Linked DNA regions of Homo sapiens. The protein of the gene in region 1 interacts with the protein of each later gene in a biochemical or structural test. Each region holds a gene or a part of one and is shown in the gene's direction. Other genes may lie near its edges. The genes, in order: USP9X, CDC123, MARK4 and PEX5.

Region 1 (7,039 bases):
GAGAAACTGAAATGAAATCCTGTGTTATTGGCAAATCAGCCAAATTGTACTATTGCCTGTCAAAATGCTTTGCCTGCCATGTATTCTCATTATTAGAATTCAAATACTGTACCTCCAAATTATGTCACTGAATCCTAACTTGCCTTCAGAGATGCAGTTTTATAAAAGGTATTGATGTGTAGCAAATTACCCTCAACTACAGCAGTCATAAACTTAGTTATAACTTTTTTAAAGTTTGCATTACTCTCGAGTGTCCTGAATTCACTTCAGGTAATGTGTTTAAATTACATATATGGCAGAATTATTTTGGACTGGTAATAAGTTAGTAAGAGCACAGACTCTGGAGTCACACTGCTCCGCAGCTATATGACCTCGGCAAGCTGTGTAACTCTGTGCCAATTTTCTCACCTGTTAAAAGTTTTAATAATAAGGCCAGGCGCAGTGGCTCATGCCTGTAATCCCAGCACTTTGGGAGGCCGAGGCAGGCGGATCACGAGGTCAGGAGATTGAGACCATCCTGGCTAACACGGTGAAACCCCGTCTCTACTAAAAATACAAAAAATTAGCTGGGCGTGGTGGCACGTGCCTGTAGTTGGGCTGAGGCAGGAGAGAGGCGTGAACCTGGGAGGCAGGACTTGAAGTAAGCCGAGATGGCGCCACTGCACTCCAGCCCAGGCCGTCTCAAAAAAAATAAATAAATAAAAAATAAAGGTTTAATAATAGTACCTATTGTCTAATGTTAGATTAAATGACTAAAAGACATTATTGAGTGGCACATAGTAGGCACTCAGTATATATTAGCTATTAGATTTTAGATGTTTTTATTTTATATCTGGTTCTCTTTCAGAATTCATAATGCACTGAAAGGAATTCCAGATGACCGAGATGGGCTGTTTGACACAATCCAGCGCTCTAAGAATCACTATCAAAAAAGAGCATACCAGTGTATAAAATGTATGGTAGCTCTATTTAGTAACTGTCCTGTTGCTTACCAAATCCTGCAGGTGAGGATTTTTTTCTTATAATTTTGTAGAAATCTTAATCAGAATTAAGGATTCTGTTTTAAAAGAAGAGAATCATGAGAACTTGGGGTTGTCATTTTAAGTTAACTTTGAAGTATTCCAAATCCTCTTATCTATATGGTTTTATTTTCTTTTGCAGGGCAATGGAGATCTTAAAAGAAAGTGGACCTGGGCAGTGGAATGGCTTGGAGATGAACTTGAAAGAAGACCATATACTGGCAATCCTCAGTACACTTACAACAATTGGTCTCCCCCAGTGCAAAGCAATGAAACGTCCAATGGTTATTTCTTGGAGAGATCACATAGTGCTAGGATGACACTTGCAAAAGCTTGTGAACTCTGTCCAGAGGAGGTAAAAAAAGCCACCAGTGTGCAGCAGATAGAAATGGAAGAGAGCAAAGTAATTCTTTATTTTATAGGCCAGTGTTTATGTATTAATGATATTATTAAAAGATTATGTTGAAGTTTTGGGTTTTGAAAAATGTTTATTCGGCTGGGCATGGTGGCTCACGCCTGTAATCCCAACACTTTGGGAGGCCGAGGCAGGCGGATCACCTGAGGTCAGGAGTTCAAGACCAGCCTGGCCAACAAGGTGAAATCCCATCTCCACTAAAAATAGAAAAATTAGTCGGGCGTGGTGGCAGGCGCCTGTAATCTCAGCTACTTGGGAGGCTGAGGCTGGAGAATGACTTGAACCCAGGAGGCACAGATTGCAGTGAGCGGAGATCGTGCCAGTGGGCTCCAGCTTGGGTGACAAGAGTGAAACTCCATCTCAAAAAAAGAAAAGAAAAGAATGTTTATTCTATGTCATTTTAAGCTAATGAAGGGAGCTTTCTTTTGGAGAAATTTCTGTGAAATTGCCTGAAATGTAGTAGTTCTGAGAGAATGCAAATCAGGTTTTTTGTTTTGTTTTTTTTTTTTTTGTTTTTTCCCCAAGTTCTTTATCTGCAGTAAAAGAAAAGTTGCTAATGGGTCAGTTTTGTAGATTTTTAAAATTTATTTCAAATAGAAAAAGTTAAAAGTAAACTTGAGTTTGCCTACGTAATTTTTTATCTTGAAATATTCAAAATTAGGAGCCAGATGACCAAGATGCTCCAGATGAACATGAGTCGCCTCCACCTGAAGATGCCCCATTGTACCCCCATTCACCTGGATCTCAGTATCAACAGGTAAACAGGAGTCAGTTTATGCTTTTATCCCCTAGAACTGGGTTTTATGCTTAATTTTAGAGGATGGCTCAATTGTTTGTTGTGACTACAAAGTAAGAAGTAGGATTATCTAGACTAGCTTTGGGAGCATGATCCAGAAGAGGGATGGTTTGGAGTGGGGGTCATGGTGTAACATGTTTGAACTTAACCACTGTAGGGTTTTCCTTGTCAAGAAGGTGTCCTTCTTGTGCTAGTAGTTAATAAAACTGTATGAGAATTTATATCAACATAAAATGATCATTGTTTAGTGCAAAGGATTGTGGTGACATTTCCGGTGAGGTAAAATCTTCACCTGGATTCCAAAAACATTATTAAGATATGGCAATGAAGTAAGAAGTCCTTGGTTACTTAGCCACAGGTTTCAGTGATGGTAAAAATCACTGGAAAAAAAAGGATTTGGGTAGATTTCCATAGGTGATTAAAGTAAATAAACTAGTAAATAGCAAAAGAAATGAGATGAAGAAACATTCTAAATGATAACTTTTTCTTTCTGAAACCAAAATGTGACTAAATCAGCTCTTGTGAGGCAGTGGTACTCAAACTTGCACAGGCGTGAGTCTCCCTGGAAGGGTTGCTCCAGCAGAGAGCTAGATGCTACCCTAAAGTGTCTTATTTCATAGGTCTTCAAGGGGCTGGAAAATGTACATTTCTAGCAAGTTCCCAAGTGATGCTGCTGGTGGTCCAGGAACCATACTTGGAGAAACATTTCAGGCATTCTTTCTTACATTTCACTGTGTACATAGAAGCAAACTGAATAGTTAGGAAGTACACATTCAGCGTACTTATTTTCATCTATAGAAAGTAAAGCCTGGCCAGGCGCGGTAGCTCATGCCTGTAATCCCAACACTTTGGAAGGCTGAGGCAGGTGGATCACCTGAGGTCAGGAGTTTGAGACCAGCCTGACCAACATGGAGAAGCCCTGTCTCTACTAAAAATACAAAATTAGCCGGGTATGGTGGTGGCGCATGCCTGTAATCCCAGCTACTCAGGAGGCTGAGGCAAGAGAATCTCTTGAACCCAGGAGGCAGAGGTGGTGGTGAGTCGAGATAGCACCATTGCACTCCAGCCTGGGCAACAAGAGCGAAACTCCCATCTCAAAAAAAAAAAAAAAAAAGTTAAGCCTAAAATCTTGGCTTGGCTGATGGAGCATGTACAGAAAAATGAGAGCACTGTAGGGTTCAGACATTTTAAAAGGTTAAGGAACCAAATCCACAAGGAAGGTTAACTTCCTTTGACCCTGAGAAAGCTCTTATGTTAATCATGCCTGGTTACTTTATCATCTTGAACATTGTTCTGTTTTTAATCAGCATTATTGTGAGTTCAGGGTTACTGCTCCTATATATCTTACATCATGGTTAGTCAATCGGATTTAGCATGTGGAAGAGTCAATAGATGCTCATAGATCATTCTCTGAAAATTTTTTACCAAGAGCAACAGTGGGTTAATCCTTTATTTGCCAGACTTGAGTCTAAATAATTTTTGGCACTAAAAATCACTTTGGCCAAAGATTTATGTGGACCTACACAATCACTGCTCTTATTCAGGGTTTTGGGGTTTGCATTTACACTACGTTTTTCAAGCCTTTTTTTGTTTTTGTTTTTGTTTTTGTTTTGCACTATAGTAGTCCAAGGGTATTTACAGAGTAAGTCCCAAGAATAAGAGTATACATTTCCAGAGACTTCAGACCATGATTTTGAAGTTGTTTTACTATGTGAAAAGTTTTAACATACAGATCTTTTCTCCTTTCCCAGAATAACCATGTGCATGGACAGCCATATACAGGCCCAGCAGCACATCACATGAACAACCCTCAGAGAACTGGCCAACGAGCACAAGAAAATTATGAAGGCAGTGAAGAAGTATCCCCACCTCAAACCAAGGATCAATGAAATGCACATAATTAACTGGTTCCATCAAGACTGTGCACCCAGGCCTTACAGTCCAACCTTTTTCTGTGTCTGGCTAATATTTAAAACTAGAAAAACTATTCCTAATCAACATGGAGTGGAGAGTTTATTCACTGTCTTATCTGCAGAAATTTGCTGTCAATATATAACCCGCCTGCAGTGGAAAGTGTATAGTGTTTTGTAATAAATGGCCTGATGCTAATGTGTAAATGGCAAAGGTGTATATAGTATATTAATGTTGACTGTTAATTCTTAAGCAAGAAACTTTTTTCTTGATGAGACTCACAGATCTACACAAACTACAAAAGTTAATTTTCTTGTTACACCCACTGCACTCTGCAACCAGTGTTGCCTGCCTCATGGCAGTTGGATCAGCTCCTTTACAAAAAAGAAAAAAAAAAAACCAACAGCAACAAAACAGAGCCCATCCATGTCAGCCACACCAATAGTTTCATGTTAATTCTTTGCCACTGGAGTCAATTTTGCTATGAGCAATGTAAGGCTGGTAACCTTTAAATTATTTGGTTGATGTGGAAAATTGGTGATGTAACACTGTTTCTAGATTTTTTTCATTGCCTTTTTATTCTGATATTAGGTTAATCACTTTGAAGCTATAGTTATGCTGTAACATTTAGCATGGCTTCACACCAAGTTAGTGTAGCCAATGAGGAAAAAGTTACCATAATGACAGCAGTTGTCCGAGAAGTGACAGCTGTATTACTCAGAGCTTTTACTTCTTACACCTAGAATATTAAAATATAAAACAAGGGGAGAAATGTGACAGTCTATTTTCAGTTGCACATATGTTCCTTATATATAATGTTTGACAGTTCAATCTCTGGGTGGAATAAAGAACACTTACGTATCAGTAATGGGAATTTTTAAAGATTTAAAACAAATATGCAAAAATTTGCTATGCCAAGATGCTGGAGCATAATATAAGACTGTATTTGGTGTGCTTGTTTTGTTTCTTTGGTAGAGTTTATTAGGTGAATCTTCTAAAACTTTCCTTCTGTTGGATCCCAGTGACGTGGAAGTCATCAGAACCCCACGGTACTTGGAGTACCTCTCTGCACCAAGATAGCTGGCTGATTTTCTGCTCAGTCACAATTTTACTTGAAAGCAAGAATTGTCCTAGCTCCTTTTCCATTATTCCAAAACGTTTAACGTTCAAAGCAGGGTCTCATTAAAAAAGAAACTACTGGTTGATATAATTGAGATATTACAATTTCAGAATAAACATTTGATTAAAAATAAGGAAATCCTCAGTTCATACTGTATTTAAAAGAGAATTGGTAACTTGAATGTGTGTAATTTTTTGGAACCTGTCTAAAAACCAAATACCCCTGCAAACAGATACAGCCCACCCTATTCTATTTAAATATTTTGCTGTTTTATTTTATAGAAATTATTTTGCTGAATTCACAAATAGAATTTGATTTAAGAAGAACTTTTTGTCCTGTGGTGTGTTTTTGGTTTTTTTTTTGGTTACTTTTTTTGTCCTTTTTTTTTTTTTTTAAAAGAGGACTGCATATTAAAATTCATTCTGTGCATAGCATGCCTAGGCATGACACTGATTCAGGATTTCAGTCACATCAAGTTTTTGTGCACAGAAAGATTTGACCTTTGGCCCTCTACTGAAGATTTTGAGAAATCAGGATGTTGACACTGTAAAAGTTTCCTAACATAATCTTGTACTTTTTGTATGTTTTTTATATACATGTATATTTAATGAGCACAAGCTTGGTTGTATTTTTTACAATTCAGTTAATAGGGAAATGTTTTGTCAAAAGGCTACACTTGGAACTGAACAAAGCAGAAACAAAATTGAGCATTGCATTATTTTGTGATTAAAAGGGGCAGGTATTTAAGATAAAGCTTTGGGTATCTTATTTGTAGTACTGTATAGTCAACCTGTGCTTCTAGGTGTTCCTGTAGGACATTTTGACACCGATACTTTGAGTGAAAGTCACACACGGTGTTTGCAATTCCAACTGATTTTTGTTTTGTTTTTATTTTTTTGTTGTTTTCTTCTTTGAGATGGAGTCTTGCTCTGTCACCCAGGCTGGAGTGCAGTGGCACAATCTTGGCTCACTGCAACGTCGCCTCCTGGGTTCAAGCGATTCTTCCGCCTCAGCCTCCCGAGTAGCTGGGATTAGAGGTGCCCACCACCACGCCCAGCTAATTTTTGTATTTTTGTAGAGACAGGGTTTCACCACGTTGGCCAGGCTGGTCTTGAACTCCTGACCTCAGGTGATCTGGCCGCCTCGGCCTCCCAAAGTGCTGGGATTGCAGGTGTGAGCCACCGCGCCTGGCCCCAGTTGATAGTTTTTTTAATTTAAAAGTTCCTCAATTCCAAGCTCTTTAAACGAGTGAAATAGGTTAACTTTATTTGGATGAGTTAGGTGTACCATCTCACCATCTGAGAGGAGATTTATATATTTCCTGCTGCTCCTTAACAAAATATGTAATGTACTTAAAAACTTTAACGACTTCCTAGTTGAGAGAAAACTTGACATATAAAAGGCTGTGAATTTTTCTGCTTGGAGGAAGAGCCCAACCTTGGTTGCTTTGAAGTTACAAGCCCCCTTGTGCCAGGTGAGGGGCTTGTGAGTCATTTTTGTCTCCATTTGAGGAAGAGTGGTATTCGTTGTGACTAGGAGCAAGGGAAAGTGGAGTTATTTTTGTTTGTGCAAATTATTTTCTATATTTAACTCAAGCATTAATGTATAACCAGAAATTTAAAGATGCATGTTGTTGCAAGAGCAACATAATGGTGATTTTGAGGTCTTTTTCTGAACACAAGTGGCACATTTTAAATTTCAAGTCTTCAAAGTGCCTAAGGATTATTTAGTTCTCCCTCAACTGATTTTTTGAGCCATATATTTCCTATTTTAAATGT
Region 2 (2,941 bases), on another chromosome or scaffold:
TCAATTACATGTCCTGAGATTTTCACAGTGTTCTCTTGTGAGCATTTTATATCTTTTAAAAAATAGTTTTGGGCCAGACGTAGTGGCTCACACCTGTAATCCCAGCACTTTGGGAGGCCGAGGCTGGTGGATCACCTGAGGTCAGGAGTTCGAGACCAGCCTGGCCAACATGGTGAAACCCCGTCTCTACTAAAAATACAAAAAATTAGCTGGGCATGGTGGCAGATGCCTGTAATCCCAGCTACTTGGGAGGCTGAGGCAGGAGAATTGCTTGAACCTGGAAGGCGGATGTTGCAGCAGTGAGCCAAGATCACGCCATTGCACTCCAGCCTGGGTGACAGAGCGGGACTCCGTCTCAAAAAAAAAACAGGCCAGGTGCGGTGGCTCACACCTGTAATCCCAGTACTTTGGGAGGCTGAGGCAGGTGGATCACCTGAGGTTGGGAGTTCGAGACCATCCTGATCAACGTGGAGAAACCCCGTCTCTACTAAAAGTAAAAAAATTAGCCAGGCATGGTGGTGCATGCCTGTAATCCCAGCCACTCGGGAGGCTGAGGCAGGAGAATCGCTTGAACCTGGGAGGTGGAGGTTGCGATGAGCTGAGATTGCTCCATTGCATCCAGCCTGGGCAACAAGAGTAAAACTTCGTCTAAAAAAAAAAAATTAGTTTTGGCAGCTGGGCATGGTGGTTCATGCCTGTAATCCCAGCACTTTGGGAGGCCGAGGCAGGCAGATCACCTGAGGTCAGGAGTTTGAGACCAGCCTGGCCAACATAGTGAAATCCCTATCTCTACTAAAAATACAAAAATTAGCCGGACGTGGTGACGCGCGCCTGTAGTCCCAGCTACTTGGGAAGCTGAGGTGGGAGAATCACTTGAACCTGGGAGGCAGAGGTTGCAGTGAGCAACAGAGACCTGGGCAACAGAGATCGTGCCCCTGCACTCCAGTCTGAGAACAGAGCGAGACTTTGCCTCAAAAAAAAAAAAAAAAATAGTTTGGCATGGGTGCAACAGCCCACCTAGCCTATAATCTTAACACTTTGGGAGGCCAAGGCAGGAGGATTGCTTCAGCTCAGGAGTTCAAGACCAGCCTGGGCAACATACTGAGATATTTTCTGTACTAAAATTTAAAAAACTCAGCTGGGCGTGGTGGCGCATGCCTATAGTCCCAGCTACTTGGGAGGCTGAAGTGCGAGGTTCACCTGAGCCCAGGAGGTCGAGGCTGCAGTGAGCCACTGCACTCCAGCTGGAATTACAGACGTGAGCCACCGTGCCCGGCTCATTTTAACTTAAGCATCTTCCTTTCTCCTCATCAAGTACAGAGGAAAACATGGAGTTGAAATTGTTTTGCTAGGTTCTTTTTTAGTTCACAGAATAGGCCTAAAAATAAATGATTGATATTCTTTCTCCTTTTTCTTCTTTGTACAGGATTCCCCAGCTTTCCGTTGCACAAACAGTGAAGTGACAGTCCAGCCCAGCCCCTATTTGAGTTACCGGCTACCCAAGGACTTTGTAGACCTCTCTACTGGGGAGGACGCTCACAAGCTAATAGACTTCCTTAAGCTGGTAAAGTCTATGTGCATTTAGTATGCTGGCCATCTTTTCAAATAGACCTTCAAATTGGCTTTTATATAATATTTCATTGGAATCCTGTATCACCTAGACTTTGATGGTTATGAATGGAACCAAGTTACTGAGTTAGAGCATTTTCTAATTAAATATGAAATAGGAGCTGAAGGCATAATTTATTGATTAGAATGACAGAAAATGTTTTTATGCTGTACATGCCTTTTGAACATTTTTCAAAATACTTGTAACTTTGAAGAAAGTGTGTATATTGTTAGAAGGCTGTAAGGAGAGCAGGTCTCTGCTCTGGTGGTGATTTTACTCAAGAGGGGATGTGAATATTTATATTTTTGTGTGGATTTCTGTGTAGGAGTTTTTGTATGTATGGAAGAAAGAGAAGAAAATACTCAAATACCTGAGGATAATTTGCTCAGGAGTCAAAGTGATAAACTAGTTTAATGAATTAAAGCATGGTTTTCCATGACAATTTTTAATTACATCCTTTGCCAAGACCTCTAGAAAATTACACCTGCTGAGCAGATATCCCAAGGAGCATGTGCTATTTTAACATCCCCTTGGTTTTCTTTGACAGAAGAGAAATCAGCAGGAGGACGACTGATGAGCGTACTGGAACTGGAGAAGAGGAGGCCCCGCCCCACCGCTCCGGGAGCTGCTCATCAGCCGCAACTTCCTGCCGACCCTGATGCGGGTGGGCCGAGCAGTGTGGACATCAGCCACTTTTTATATTCATGTACATTCACCTGGGGAAAAAAACGGAGGGACTTTGCTACTTGTAAAAATAACATAATAAATAGATCTTAAACATAGGAAAACCATACTGTTCTGATAATAAAATGCTTTCTATGAAATACGTTGCTTTTCTACCGAGTCATTATTTTATTTATTTATTTTAATTTTAATTTTTTGAGACAGTCTCGCTGTGTCGCCCATGCTGGAGTGCACTGGTGCGATCTCGGCTCACTGCAACCTCCACCTCCTGGTTCAAGCGATTCTCCTGCCTCAGGCTCCCAAGTAGCTGGGATTACAGGTGCATGCCACCACACCCAGCTGAGTTTTATATTTTTAGTAGAGGTAGGGTCTCACCGTGTTGGCCAGGCTGGTCTGGAACTCCTGATCCTCAAGTGATTTGCCCACCTTGGCCTCCCAAAGTGCTGGGATTATAGGTGTGAGCCACCACGCCCGCCCTGTTTTGTTTAGGGACAGTCTTGTTCTGTTGCCCAGTCTGGGGTGCAGTGGCACAATCACAGCTCACTGCAGCCTCAATCTCCTGGACTCAGGCAGTCCTGCCTCAGCCTCCTGAGTAACTGGGACTACAGGTGCACACCACCACGCCCAGCTGATTTTTGTATTTTTTTG
Region 3 (7,039 bases), on another chromosome or scaffold:
ACTCCATCTCAAAAAAATAAAAAGAGTTTGACACCAGCCTGGGCAACATTTCAAGACCACATCTCTACAAAAAATATTTTTTAAATTAGCCTGGCATTGTGGTGCATGCCTGTAGTCCCAGCTACTTGGGATGCTGAGGTGGGAGAATTGCTTGAGCCCAGGAGTTCCAGGCTACAGCGAACTATGATCACGCCACTGCACTCCAGCTTCGGTGACAGAACAAGAGCCTGTCTCTTTAAAAAAAAAAAAAGCATCTGCTTGCAGCCCGTCTGCATATGTTAAGCCCTTCACTGGAGCTTGGCATCTGGCCACAGCATCATGCTTGGGAGCTGCGCTGGAGGTGGCAGTGGTGGCCTGATGGTTTCTTCTCCCCCATCACGTGATAGGCAGTGTGGCATGGTGGTCACACAGCACAGGCTCCAGAGCCAAGGCTCTGCCACTTTCTGGCTGTGCAATCCTGGGGCAAGTGACCAAACCCCTCCAGGCCTCAACCTCCTCGTCTGGAAAGTGGGCGTTATAACCGGGCTTCGCGGCGTTGTGAAAATGGATGTAATATGCATAAAGCACTTAGAACACTGCCTGCTAAGGGGTAAGTGTCCTGAAAGTGATCCAAATTAAATATTAATAGCCCTTTATGATCTGCAGAGGCTCCCCAGGCATGGGCATCTTTCAGCCCTTTTAGGAGAATGCTGCAGCAGAGGACTCTGTCCTAAAGGAGTCCTGTTCACCCCCAACGCTCAATTCATTCCTACCTGTTTTCTGCCTCCCTTCGTTTTTTTTGTTGTCTGTTTGTTTTTTGAGACAAGGTCTCAGTCACCCAGGCTGGAGGGCAGTGGTGCAGTCACAGCTCACTGCAGCCTCAACCTCCCGGGCTCAAGCAATCCTCCTGCTTCAGCCTCCTGAGTAGCTGGGACCACAGGCATGTGCCACCACACCTGGCTAATTTTTGTATTTTTTGTAGAGACAGAGTCTCGCTGTGTTGCCCAGGCTGGTCTCAAACTCACGGGCTCAAGCGGTCTTCCCACCTTGGCCTCCCGAAGTGCTGGGATTATAGACATAAGCCACCACGCCTGGCCTATTGCGGTTTTTTATTCAGATGGAAAGAGCTCCCCCTGGTCTGCCAAGCTATGGATTTATCTTATTTTTCACAGCTTTGGTAGGGCCTCTCATAAAAGGCCCTTAAAGAGAAAGCCAGCAGATAAATCCATGAATGGCCTTGAGGAGTGTGTCTCTTTGGACAGCAGGCATGGCTGGGGGAGGGGAGAGACGAGAAGGCAGGAGAGGCAGTAGGGTCTCCTTCCCCTTGAGTGAATCTCATATTTACATACCGCTCTCTGGCTCTGGGCCAGGCATGTGGTAAGCATTTTACAGATTTTTTTTTTTTTTTTTTTTTGAGATGGAGTCTTGCTCTGCCGCCCAGGCTGGAGTGCAGTGGCGCAGTCTCGGCTCACTGCAACCTCCGCCTCCTGGGTTCAAGTGATTCTCCTGCCTCAGCCTCCCGCGTAGCTGGGATTACAGGGGTCTGCTACCACACCCAGCTAATTTTTGTATTTTTTTTTTTTTTAGTAGAGATGGGGTTTCGCCATGTTGGCCTGGCTGGTTTCGATCTCCTGACCTCAGGCGATCTGCCTGCCTCACCCTCCCAAAGTGCTGGAATTACAGGCGTGAGCCACCGCGCCCAGCCACATTTTTACGGATATTAACTCACCTGTACCCTGGTAGCAAGCATGTGAAGTGGGTCCTGTAATCCCTTTCACGGATAAGGAGACCGAGGCCCCAGTGGCTGACTCACTTACCTACCTCCCTCTTACCTGACTTAGAGAATAAACTTCCTTTTTTTTCTGAGACAGAATCTCGCCCTGTCACCCAGGCTGGAGTGCAGTGGCGTGATCTCAACTCACTGCAACCTCCACCTCCTAAGAGTTTAAGTGATTCTCGTGCCTCAGCCTCCCAAGTAGCTAGGACTACAGGCAGCCACCACCACACCCAGCTAATTTTTGTATTTTTAGTGGAGATGGGGTTTCACCATGTTAGCCAGGCTGGTCTCGAACTCCTGACCTCAGGCGATCTGCCTGTCTCGGCCTCCCAAAGTGCTGGGATTACAGGTGTGAGCCACCGTGCCTGGCCAGATAATAAACTTTCTCTGCAAGTTTTCCTCTGAATGAAAAGTTATGTAGCTTAAATTTTTTTTTTTTTTTTTTTGTAGAGACAGGCTGGTTGTTCAGGCTGGTCTTGAACTCCTGGGTTCAAGCTATCCTCCTCCCTCGGCCTCCCAACGTGTTTGGATTACAGGTGTGCACCACCATGCTCAGGTCATTTTTTATTTTTTGTAGAGATGAGGTCTCCCTGTGTTGCCCAGGCTGTTCTTGAACTCCTGGGCTCAAGCGATCCTCCGGTCTTGGCCTCTACGCCTGGCCAAGAATTTTTTTTTTTAAATTGCAGCGTCCATATGATGTTCCCATTTTATGGACAGGGAACTGAGGTCAGGAGAAAGGAATGGGGTTTTGCTTACCTCGTCAAGGACTGGGACTCAGAGCTTCTGTCACTTCTATCAAAGGGGTTGGGACAAAGGTTGTGTGTGTGTGTGTGTGTGTGTGTGTGTGTGTGTGTGTGTGTGTGTAATAGGTGGGGGGCGGGGCAGACCCCCTCCTCCAGTAACCCCATCCCTGCAGGAGCTGCGGGAGCGAGTACTCAGAGGGAAGTACCGGGTCCCTTTCTACATGTCAACAGACTGTGAGAGCATCCTGCGGAGATTTTTGGTGCTGAACCCAGCTAAACGCTGTACTCTCGAGGTGAGCCCAGCCTCACAGCCAGCGGGAGCCCTTCTAGTCTCCTGACTCCCCTAAACTCTGCCTGCCCCCACCCACAAAAGCCTTCTTGACACACTTTTCCTCTCCTGTGCCCACCGAAGATCTGCTGCTGGTGAGTGGGGGTAGACAGGCCGTCCAGGGAAAAGCTCCCAGGCCTGTCCTGACGCCACCCCCCCGACAGGCTCACCCACTCCCTGCCTTGCCAGTAATTAGCTAATGAGCTCCTAGGATGATTACAGGGTGCCAGGGACCCAGATGATGCGGAGGAGGGAGGGTGGCATCAGGAGGCTCCGGCAGGGGACGTGGGGGAGAGAGAGGCCCAGGAGGCGCTATCTCTTAGGAAGCCCGCAATTCTGGGTGTTAGGCCTCGGAGGTTTGGGGCAGGGCAGAAGCTGTATGATTTCTGGTTCCTTCTGACACCTGTCTTCCCCCTTCCCTGCTCCTGATGCCTGCAGCAAATCATGAAAGACAAATGGATCAACATCGGCTATGAGGGTGAGGAGTTGAAGCCATACACAGAGCCCGAGGAGGACTTCGGGGACACCAAGAGAATTGGTGAGGGTCAGGGAGAGCCATCCTGTCACCCAGGATGGAGTGCAGTGGTGCAATCTCGGCTCACTGCAACCTCCGCCTCCCAGAATCAAGAGATTCTTGTGCCTCAGCCTCCCAAGTAGCTGGGACCACAGGCGCCTGCCGCCATGCCCGGCTAATTTTTGTTATTTTTAGTAGAGACAGGGTTTTGCCATGTTGGCCATGCTGGTCTCAAACTCCTGACCTCAGGTGATCTGCCTGCCTCAGCTTCCCAAATTGCCAGGATCACAGGTGTGAGCCACTGTACCCGGCCCATGTTCGCTTTGATATTAAGACATAAAGAGAGACCAGGCGAGGTGGTTCATGCTGGTAATCCCAGCACTTTGGGAGGTCGAGGTAGAAGAATCACTTGAGCCCAGGAGTTGGAGACCAGCCTGGCCAACATAGGGAGACCCTGTCTGTACAAAAAAATAAAAATAAAAAATTAGCCAGTTGTGGTTGTGTGCACCTGTAGTCTCAGCTACTCAGCAAGCTGAGGTAGGAGGATCCCTTGAGCCCAACAATTTGAGGCTACAGTGAGCTATGATCATGCCACTGCACTCCAGGCGACAGGGTGAGACCGTGTCTCAAAAAAAGAAAAAAAGGTCAGGCACAGTGGCTCACGCCTATAATCTGAGCACTTTGGGAGGCTGAGGCTGACAGATCACCTGAGGTCAGGAGTTCGAGACCAGCCTGGCCAACATGATGAAACCTCGTCTCTACTAAGAATACAAAAATTAGATGAGTGTGGTGGCAGGCACCCGTAATCCCAGCTCCTCTGGAGGCTGAGGCACGAGAATTGCTTGAATCCAGGAGGCAGAGGTTGCAGTGAGCTGAGATTGCACCACTGTACTCCACCCTGGGCGACAAGCAAAATTCCATCTAAAATAACAATAATTACGGTTTTTACCATTAAATGGCAAAAACCGGAATTACTTTTGTATCAACCTAATTATATTAGTAGGTTGAACACAACAAAAAGTTGAACCATATGAAATTGCCATTTTTTTGGTTTAAAATTGTCAGTACCACCAATTTTGTATGGTTTAACCTAATAGTGATGATTTATTCTGCCACATAACTAAAATGAATAGAGTATGCAGCCTTCAGGCACAGTTGTATCCAGGTGCTCAGAGACAGTTGTTGGGAATGTTTTCTGTGGTAGCTTTTTCCCAGGCTGCTCTCCAGGAGGCAAGCAGATCTGGGTCACATGCCTTCAATGAAGCAGTCAGTGTGGCTTTGGGTGTAGAACACACTAATTAGCCAGACCTGGGTTATCCGCCTGCCTTAGGGTTGGAGCAGGGGAGCCATCCACGTGATCTGAGCGGAAAGAATGTTCTTTCAAAGGAAATCAATGTGCTGTTGGGAAGGGAGGATGGGTACTGGACAGGTCAAAGAGCAGACACCAGTGAATGACACAGAAATGAGTGGAAGTGGGCCAGGTGCAGTGGCTTATGCCTGTAATCCCAGCACTTTGGGAGGCCCAGGTGGGTGGATTGCTTGTGCCCAGGAGTTTCAAACCAGCCTGGACAACATAGCAAAACCCTGTCTCTACTGAAAATACAAAAACTGAGGTGGGAGGATCAGCAGAGCCTGGGGAGGCCGAGGCTGCAGTGAGCTGTGACCGTGCCACTGCACTCCAGCCTGGGTGACAGAGTGACACCCTGTCTCAAAAAAAAAGAGAAATGGATGGAAGTTAAAGTTTCTGGGAGTCTGAAACTTCTCTCCATCCCCCCCTCCCAGAGGTGATGGTGGGTATGGGCTACACACGGGAAGAAATCAAAGAGTCCTTGACCAGCCAGAAGTACAACGAAGTGACCGCCACCTACCTCCTGCTGGGCAGGAAGACTGAGGTCAGGGGGCGCCAGGGGCCCTTGGGGACGCGTGATGCCTGGGTGGAGGGACTTGGGGTGCAGAAGAGCCTCATCTGTCATCCTCTCGCAGGAGGGTGGGGACCGGGGCGCCCCAGGGCTGGCCCTGGCACGGGTGCGGGCGCCCAGCGACACCACCAACGGAACAAGTTCCAGCAAAGGCACCAGCCACAGCAAAGGGCAGCGGAGTTCCTCTTCCACCTACCACCGCCAGCGCAGGCATAGCGATTTCTGTGAGTATCAACCCCACGCCCTCACGCACCCTCCTTCTCCCCAAGGCCCAGACTTACAGTTACGTCAGGGTTCTCTGATTGGCAAGCAACAGAAACCCACTGGAGCTAACCTCAGAGAGGGAGGAATGTCTTATAAAGACACAGGGCATTGCATGGAACTTGGAGGCAGGAATGCACAGCCAGGCTCAGGAAGGGATTAAAACCGGAAAAGCAGCCAGACCCAGAGCAGACACTCTCTGTCTTGCTTCCTCTCTGCTTGTGTGGTTTTTCCTTTGTCTCTCACTTATCTCATCCTATCTTTTTTCCTGATGTCCCAGCTCCCCGATTTTTTTTTTTGAGATGGAGTCTCACTCTGTGCCTCAGGCTGTAGTGCAGTGGTGTGATCTTGGCTGATGGCAACCTCTGCTGCACAGGTTCAAGCGATTCTTCTGCCTTAGGCTCCCGAGTAGCTGGGATTACAGGCGCCTGCCATAACCCCCCGGCTAATTTTTGTATTTTCAGTAGAGATGGGGTTTCACCATGTTGGCCAAGCTGGTCTTGAACTCCTGACCTCGTGATCCACCCTCGGCCTCCCAAAGTGCTGGCATTACAGGTGTGAGCCACTGTGCCCAGCCTTTTCTTTTCTTTTCTTTCTTTTTTTTTTTGAGACAGAGTCTCACTCTGTATCCCAGGCTGGAGTGCAGTGTCGTGATCTTGGCTCACTGCAACCTCCACCTCTTGGGTTCAAGCGATTCTTGTGCCTCAGCCTCCTGAGTAGCCGGGATTACAGGCACCTGCCACCACACCTGGCTAATTTTTGTATTTTTAGTAGAGACAGGGTTTCACCATGTTGGCCAGGCTGCTCTTATACTCCTGACCTCATGATCCACCCACCTCAGCCTCCCAAGGTACTGGGATTACAGGTGTGAGCCACTGCACCCAGCCCCCAATTTCTTACCTTAGAGACCAGTCCAAATGGCAGCTGGAATCTCTGGTCCAGGATGAAGCTCTGATATCAGAGTCAAGTTTGAATTAATCCATTGTAACTGGGGCACAGGAGGACACGTTGTACAAAGTGGCTGCTGAGAGTCTGCCCTCTGGCTTTGCCTCCACACTGAAGTAAAGGAGGCTCTGGAAGAGAGCTGGGCGGACAGCTGATTATACCCCACATTCTGCAACTGACAGACATCTCATCTGCTGCAGAAAATGAATACAGAGTCTGAGTTTAAATCTGGGCCAGGCACGGTGGCTCATGTCTGTAATCCCTTGGGAGGCCGAGGTGAGTGGATCACCTGAGGTTGGGAGTTTGAGACCGGCCTGGCCAACATGGTGAAACCCTGTCTCTACTAAAAACACAAAATTAGCTGGGCGTGTTGGTGCGTGCCTATAATCCCAGCTACTCGGGAGGCTGAAGCAGGAGAATTGCTTGAAACTGGGAGGCGGAGGTTGCAGTGAGCCGAGATCATGCCATTGCACACCAGCCTGGGCAACAGAGAGACCTCATCTCAAAAAAATTAAAAAAAAAAAAAAAAGGATACACACCACCATCAGCACCCATTAGGCATGGAGACTTCTG
Region 4 (7,039 bases), on another chromosome or scaffold:
CAAAACCGCCATTGTCATCATGGCCCGTTCTCAATGAGCTATTGGGTACACCTCCCAGACGGGGTGGTGGCCAGGCAGAGGGGCTCCTCACTTCCCAGTAGGGGCGGCCGGGCAGAGGCGCCCCTCACCTTCTGGACGGGGCGGCTGGCCGGGCGGGGGGCTGACCCCCACCTCCCTCCCGGACGGGGCGGCTGGCCGGGCAGGGGGCTGACCCCCACCTCCCTCCCGGACGGGGCGGCTGGCCGGGCGGGGGGCTGACCCCCACCTCCCTCCTGGACGGGGCGGCTGGCCGGGCGGGGGGCTGACCCCCCGCCTCCCTCCCGGACGGGGCGGCTGGCCAGGCGGGGGGCTGACCCGCACCTCCCTCCCGGACGGGGCGGCTGGCCGGGCGGGGGGCTGACCCCCACCTCCCTCCCGGACGGGGTGGCTGCCGGGCGGAGACGCTCCTCACTTCCCAGACGGGGCGGCTGCCGGGCAGAGGGTCTCCTCACTTCTCAGACGGGGCGGCCGGGCAGAGACGCTCCTCACCTCCCAGACGGGGTCGCGGCCAGGCAGAGGCGCTCCTCACATCCCAGACGGGGCGGCGGGGCAGAGGCGCTCCTCACATCTCAGACGATGGGTGGTCGGGCAGAGACGCTCCTCACTTCCTCGATGGGATGGCGGCTGGGAAGAGGCGCTCCTCACTTCCTAGATGGGATGGCGGCCGGGCAGAGACGCTCCTCACTTTCCAGACTGGGCAGCCAGGCAGAGGGGCTCCTCACATCCCAGACGATGGGCGGCCAGGCAGAGACGCTCCTCACTTCCCAGATGGGGTGGCGGCCAGGCAGAGGCTGCAATCTCGGCACTTTGGGAGGCCAAGGCAGGCGGCTGGGAGGTGGAGGTTGTAGCGAGCCGAGATCACGCCACTGCACTCCAGCCTGGGCACCATTGAGCACTGAGTGAACGAGACTCCGTCTGCAATCCCGGCACCTCGGGAGGCCGAGGCTGGCGGATCACTCGCGGTTAGGAGCTGGAGACCAGCCCGGCCAACACAGCGAAACCCCGTCTCCACCAAAAAAATACGAAAACCAGTCAGGCATGGCGGCGCGTGCCTGCAATTGCAGGCACTCGGCAGGCTGAAGCAGGAGAATCAGGCAGGGAGGTTGCAGGGAGCCGAGATGGCAGCAGTACAGTCCAGCTTCGGCTCGGCATCAGAGGGAGACCGTGGAAAGAGAGGGGGAGAGAGACCGTAGGGAGAGGGAGAGGGAGAGGGAGAGGGCTTACTTTATTCTTTAAGATTTCCCCTTGGGTTATTACTCCTGTGAATTTATGGTTGAAATGTAGTCAAGGACACAGTGGTTGTGTGCCTGTACTCAGGAAGCTGAGGTGGGAGGATTGCTTGGGCCCAGGAGGTCAAGTCTAGCCCGAGGAACACAGTAAGACCTTGTCTTTAAAAAACCAAAAGCGCATGCATGTGTGCGTGCACACACACACACGCACACACATATATACACACATACACATATGTACACACGCATACATACACATACATGTGCACATACATGTATATACACACGTATACATATGTAAACATGTAGATACATGCGTACACATGTATACACACACATAGACATACATGTATACACACATACACATACACATGTATATACATACACACATACACGTATATATACATATCAGCTATATTTGGGAGGAAGGGAGTTTTCAGACTTTTAAAATATATGTATATAGGTAAATATATATATATTTTTCAAGAATCCTAACTATCCTATATGACGTTCATAACTTCATCTTAAAGTTCATAATTTTACCTTGTTCCCTTCTTAATTTTGAGCCTGCTACTATCCCATCTGTATGCAAAGATATGTTTGGGAAAGGGAGAGCTAGAAGGATGTAGCTAGTACTTTCACACTCCTGCCCAAATGTCCTTCTATAATGCAAATTGGAGTTTGTAGGTTCTCAACAGGAGAATGGAGTTCCCTCACAGGAACTGTCATTGTCATGGGCTAGGAGTGGGGAGTAGCATGGGGAGGGTGATGGCAGACTAATGTGTAAAATTAGTTCTTACCCGTTCCAGGTATGATGAATATCATCCTGAGGAGGATCTGCAGCACACGGCCAGTGACTTTGTGGCCAAAGTGGATGACCCCAAATTGGCTAATTCTGAGGTGAGCCACATCCCTCTGCTGCTTTGCCCAGCAGAGCTGGTTTTGGAAGGCAAGAATCTTGCTTTTCTTACCCCAGTTTAGTTTAAAGAGAAGGAGAAGAGATCTTAGGTCTCTTCGTTCCTGTCTATAGAACAGAGACTTAAGATCCTGCCTCTTCCTTCTAGTGTTCATTCCCTCATCTCCTTGCCTACTAACTCTTTTTTCTGATGCCTTTGCAAGTCTTTAGAGCCAGAAATCCCTTTCTTTTTGCTCTCTACCTCTTTTAGGGTCTTTAGCATATCTTGTCTGCAGCTAGAGATGGTCAGGGGAGGGGTGAGTACAGGGTCCTCTTGGGCATGGTTGAGAGTGCACACCTGGAAGTCCTTTCCCAAGTGGCCTGTGTGTGTCTCTGTGCCCCAGTTCCTGAAATTCGTGCGGCAGATTGGCGAAGGGCAGGTGTCCCTGGAGTCCGGTGCAGGGTCGGGCCGAGCTCAGGCAGAACAGTGGGCAGCAGAGTTTATACAGCAGCAGGTAGGACATTGTCACTTTCCAGTCCCACTTCAGAGCCAGCTGATGCCCCAGGCCATGGGTTCAGTGGTCAGTGGTCCCAGATGGGGAAGGATAAGACCAGCTTGTCTTGATAGCATCCAGGTCCCAAGTGGGTGGGAAAGAGATTCTGAGAATGATTTTCTCAGAAGTACCCAGGTTGGTGGTGGTTAGTGGGTATTTAGTGTGCGTCTGATGGATAGAAAGTTGGTGGTAGTGGTACTGACCATCCTTTTTTGTCGCAGGGTACATCAGATGCCTGGGTTGACCAGTTCACAAGACCAGTAAACACATCTGCCCTTGATATGGAGTTTGAACGAGCCAAGTCAGCTATAGAGGTGAGAGCAGATAGTGCAGGAGCAGACACCCCAAAAGAAAACACTCCTTGGAGTGAGTGGGTGTATGAACATCAAAGATGATGCAAATTGTATTTCATAGTGGACCTGGATCATCTGTGTCAGAGTTGCTTGGGGATGGGGTGGGTGCTGTTGAAAAATGCAGATTTCTGGGCCAGGCATGGTGGCTCATGCCTGTAATCTCAGCACTTTGGGAGCCCGAGGTGGGTGGATCACCTGAGGTTAGGAGTTCGAGACCAGTCTGAACAACATGGAGAAACCCCATGTCTCTACTAAAAATACAAAATTAGCGTGGTGTGTTGGCGCATGCCTGTAATCCCAGCTACTTGGGAGGCTGAGGCAGGAGAAATGTTTGAAACTGGGAGGTGGAGGTTGCAACGAGATGAGATCACGCCATTGCACTCTAGCCTGGGCAACGAGAGTGAAACTCTGTCTCAAACAAAAAACTAAACTAAACTATGCACTGCACTGCACTGCACTGCACTGCACTGCACTGCACTACATTACATTTCTGGCCATCACCCCAGACTACTAAATCAGTATCTGGGGATAGCATCTGGCCATTTGCATTTTAAAAAACTTATTCAGATGATTCTTAAACATATTGAAATTCAAGAACTGCTGCCTTAGAGAATCCCAGCAGAGCTGAGTGTGGGGTGGGGTGGTCATGATGGATCTCCTTTTTCTATCTGCTTTCCCTTCCTTACAGTCTGATGTCGATTTCTGGGACAAGTTGCAGGCAGAGTTGGAGGAGATGGCAAAACGGGATGCTGAGGCCCACCCCTGGCTTTCTGACTATGATGACCTTACGTCAGCTACCTATGATAAGGTGAGGTAAAAACTCTTAGTTTTTCAGGTTCCAGAACTTCCTTCTTTTTAACGTCTTTCCTTTAATCCTGAATTTGAAGGGTGCTTTTAAGTATTTTCTTGAGTCCCTTTCCACGAAAAGAAGTCTGAATAATTCCCTTGCCCTTCCTCTTCAGTGATTGAGTATAAACTTTATTCTTGGGATATAGATGTTAATGAGACTATCTTTGTCAATAACGACAGTCCAGTACATAACACCTGTGAAGGAGGTTTGCACATGCTTGCTGCATTAAAAGCACAGAGGAAGTAGCTCTGCTTGGAGGTCAGATTGGGAGCTTTTTGAGAAGACTGCTGACTCCTTTGGTGGGGAGTGTTAGTGGACAGACTATCCCTTTGCCTCCACATCTTAATATCTGTTTACTTTTTAAACTCACATATTCATTTTAAGTTCTTATCTTTTATAGGTAGTAGCCACTTGCCCTAATTTAGGGTTTTCAAAGAATTTATATTAGATAACTTAAATATTAGGGAAATTTCTTAGTAGTATGAAAGATGATTGCATTTTGCCTATAGCATGTGCTGTTGACTTAGAAGCATATGTTACTTCTGGGGTCTTACTGAAAAACAAATCTACCTGTGGGTTGTAGGATATTTGGGGATGTGTTTAATAACTGAGCTCCTGAGTTGAAACATGAAGAGGGGAAAGAATCACTTGGTTTTGAAAAAAGGCAAAACAGGAACTGGGGATGTGAGTAGTGATGTCTTTTTCTCAGTTCAGATCTGGTTGGGAAAGTATTGTGGGGCTGGAACCAGGGCCTGAGATGCAAACCAGGGTGCTGGAGATGGATCTTGATGTAATAAGGGAGCTATGCAAAGATGGGAAGATGCAGTTCAGAAAAAGGCTAGAGTTTGAGAGCCAGTGAAGAACAGTATTAGGAAAAATATGATTTTGCTTATTATTCCAGTCTGATCTGGATTTTTCTAACTATCCTGTGTGATATAAGGGAAAAGACAGCTGGGACCTTGCCATGTATTTCACTAGACTATGAGTTCATTGTATATAATTTTGATAAGGAAGAACTGAAGGAAATATAGATAACACTTTTGTTATTATTTTGTATTAACAATTTGATAAGTCACATAGGCCCCATCAACTTATAAATGGAAAGTTGTACATTTATGTAAAAATGTCCATGCTTTTCATACATATAGACATAATACTAGTTTTGTATGAGCAGCATTTTCTTTTATCATTTATTACTCTCGTATTTATGACATGCTGGCCAGAATACATTTTTTTTTTTCAGACACATAGAACAATGTGACAAATTAGAAAGCAAATTTTTTTTTAGAAAAAAAATCACATTTGATCAGGTTCCAAGAATAGAAATGTGGAAAGGATAGTCTTTTCGATAAATGGTATTGGAGAAACTGCATATCCATGTGCAAAAGAGTGAAACTGAACCGTTACCTCACACTATGTACAAAACTTAATCCAAAATGGCTTAAAGACCCAAATGCAGTACCCAAAACCGTAAAATGCCTAGAAGAAAACATAGGGAGAAAGTTTCTTGACATTAGTCTTTGCAATGATTTTTGGGATATGAGCTTTTGGTGTCATATCCAGAATACATTTTTTAATTAAAAACTTTAAAAGTATGTTTGTAGATTCTTGAGCCCTACTTGATATCATTGATACTTTGGGATATTGCAAAATTAGGACTAGAAATACTTGCATTAATGTTCCTCAAAAAGTGATGTAGTAAGCAATTAGACAGTATCTGGCTTTAAGCTAATATTGAATTCCATGTCAATAGAACTTTTTAAAAACAAAGGACTTGACTCTTGATTGTTACATAAATTCATGGATCTCTTTGAATGCACTGTTTGTTTATTGATAGCCCTTATATTTTCAGAGACAATTTACATTGCAGCTCAGGCAGATATTAATATACTATTATGATAAAAGAGAAGTATGTGATGGGACAAACTCTTTGTAGTGATCATTTCTGCAGTTTGATCCTATGAGATTTTGGAGCAGACCAGACCGTGTATCAGATAAAATTAATGACTTGGGTTTGGCTTTTCAGGATGTAACAGTGAAGCCAAGCTTATCCTGTGTTCTGTGGGTTGTTGAGGGATCCCCCAGAGTACTCTTTTTCCATCATCTATGCAAATATTCTAATTTTGGAAAATTCCTCTTTGATCAGCAATTGATGAGACTTCAAGGAGGGTAGATAATATGGATGAGAGGAAACTTAGAGAATCCTGTGGTTGCAAGATGGTGGCATTGAGTTGTTGTATTATCTAATGAAGACACCTGAAGAGCATTCGCATCACTTCTGGCTGTCATATACAGGCCATCATATCTTAAGGAAGTATCTAGAGCAGTGAGGATAATAGCTATTTACAGATAGTATCTTAAGCTTTTTGGTAAGGCGTTGGTGAAGATTCCCATTTGATGTTCTCAATGGCTCTGAGAGGCAGGAATTACTTTTATTAGGAAACTGCATTATAGATGACAGTAATCTCTGTTTTCTGTAGAGTGGCTTAAAACACGTATTAATGATGAACAATAGTTGAGGTTGAATGCAGAAGGATTTATTTTATTGAACTGTAATAGTCTAGGGCAAGGGCCAGCACACTGGCTTGTGGGATAAATCTTTATGTTTTTAGTGATCCACTAGCTGAGGATGGTTTTAACATTTTTAAATGGTTGGAGAAAATCAAAAGAGTAATACTTTGTGACAAGTGAAAATTATATAAAATTCAAATTTTAGTGTCCATAAATAAAATGTTATTGGAAGACAGCCGTGCTCATTTGTTTACTTATGTCTGGCTGCTTTCGCACTACAACAGTAGAGGTGAGTAGTTGCAGCAGATCCACGAAGCCTGAAATATTTATTATCTGGCCCTTCGCAGAAAAAGTTTGCTGATCACTGGACTAGCGTCATTTTCTGCCTTCTTAGTTTTTATATTATGCAGAGATGTCCAAAAACACACTTGTTTTCAATATAAATATACTTTCTATACATTTATCTCAAATCTACTATAATATGTCTTTCTTCTTAAACCCCCCATTGTAATTATTTAATTTTCATTTGTGACAAATAATTTGCATCTGATCATGACTTAGAATTTTGCTGGTAAGATTTAAGTGTTTTTGATTCTTTATCATTTTCA

What was found.
Region 2: of the proteins of USP9X (region 1) and CDC123, one has a biochemical effect on the other in vitro, tested with the Homo sapiens proteins (one study listed by BioGRID).
Region 3: the proteins of USP9X (region 1) and MARK4 form a complex in vitro, tested with the Homo sapiens proteins (one study listed by BioGRID).
Region 4: of the proteins of USP9X (region 1) and PEX5, one has a biochemical effect on the other in vitro, tested with the Homo sapiens proteins (one study listed by BioGRID).

The regions. Positions count from the first base shown.
Region 1 is NC_000023.11:41,228,406-41,235,444, forward strand, and holds part of USP9X (ubiquitin carboxyl-terminal hydrolase 9X), read left to right. Parts: intron 1-847; coding exon 848-1,004; intron 1,005-1,161; coding exon 1,162-1,374; coding exon of another isoform or gene 1,375-1,422; intron 1,423-2,095; coding exon 2,096-2,191; intron 2,192-3,981; coding exon 3,982-4,119; 3' UTR 4,120-7,039.
Region 2 is NC_000010.11:12,248,155-12,251,095, forward strand, and holds the end of CDC123 (translation initiation factor eIF2 assembly protein), read left to right. Parts: intron 1-1,426; coding exon 1,427-1,564; intron 1,565-2,156; coding exon 2,157-2,183; 3' UTR 2,184-2,435; downstream 2,436-2,941. UniProt on the Homo sapiens protein: ATP-dependent protein-folding chaperone for the eIF2 complex. Binds to the gamma subunit of the eIF2 complex which allows the subunit to assemble with the alpha and beta subunits.
Region 3 is NC_000019.10:45,275,251-45,282,289, forward strand, and holds part of MARK4 (MAP/microtubule affinity-regulating kinase 4), read left to right. Parts: intron 1-2,672; coding exon 2,673-2,792; intron 2,793-3,265; coding exon 3,266-3,365; intron 3,366-5,123; coding exon 5,124-5,233; intron 5,234-5,324; coding exon 5,325-5,484; intron 5,485-7,039. UniProt on the Homo sapiens protein: Serine/threonine-protein kinase. Phosphorylates the microtubule-associated protein MAPT/TAU. Also phosphorylates the microtubule-associated proteins MAP2 and MAP4.
Region 4 is NC_000012.12:7,199,674-7,206,712, forward strand, and holds part of PEX5 (peroxisomal biogenesis factor 5), read left to right. Parts: intron 1-2,077; coding exon 2,078-2,168; intron 2,169-2,567; coding exon 2,568-2,678; intron 2,679-2,938; coding exon 2,939-3,031; intron 3,032-3,758; coding exon 3,759-3,878; intron 3,879-7,039.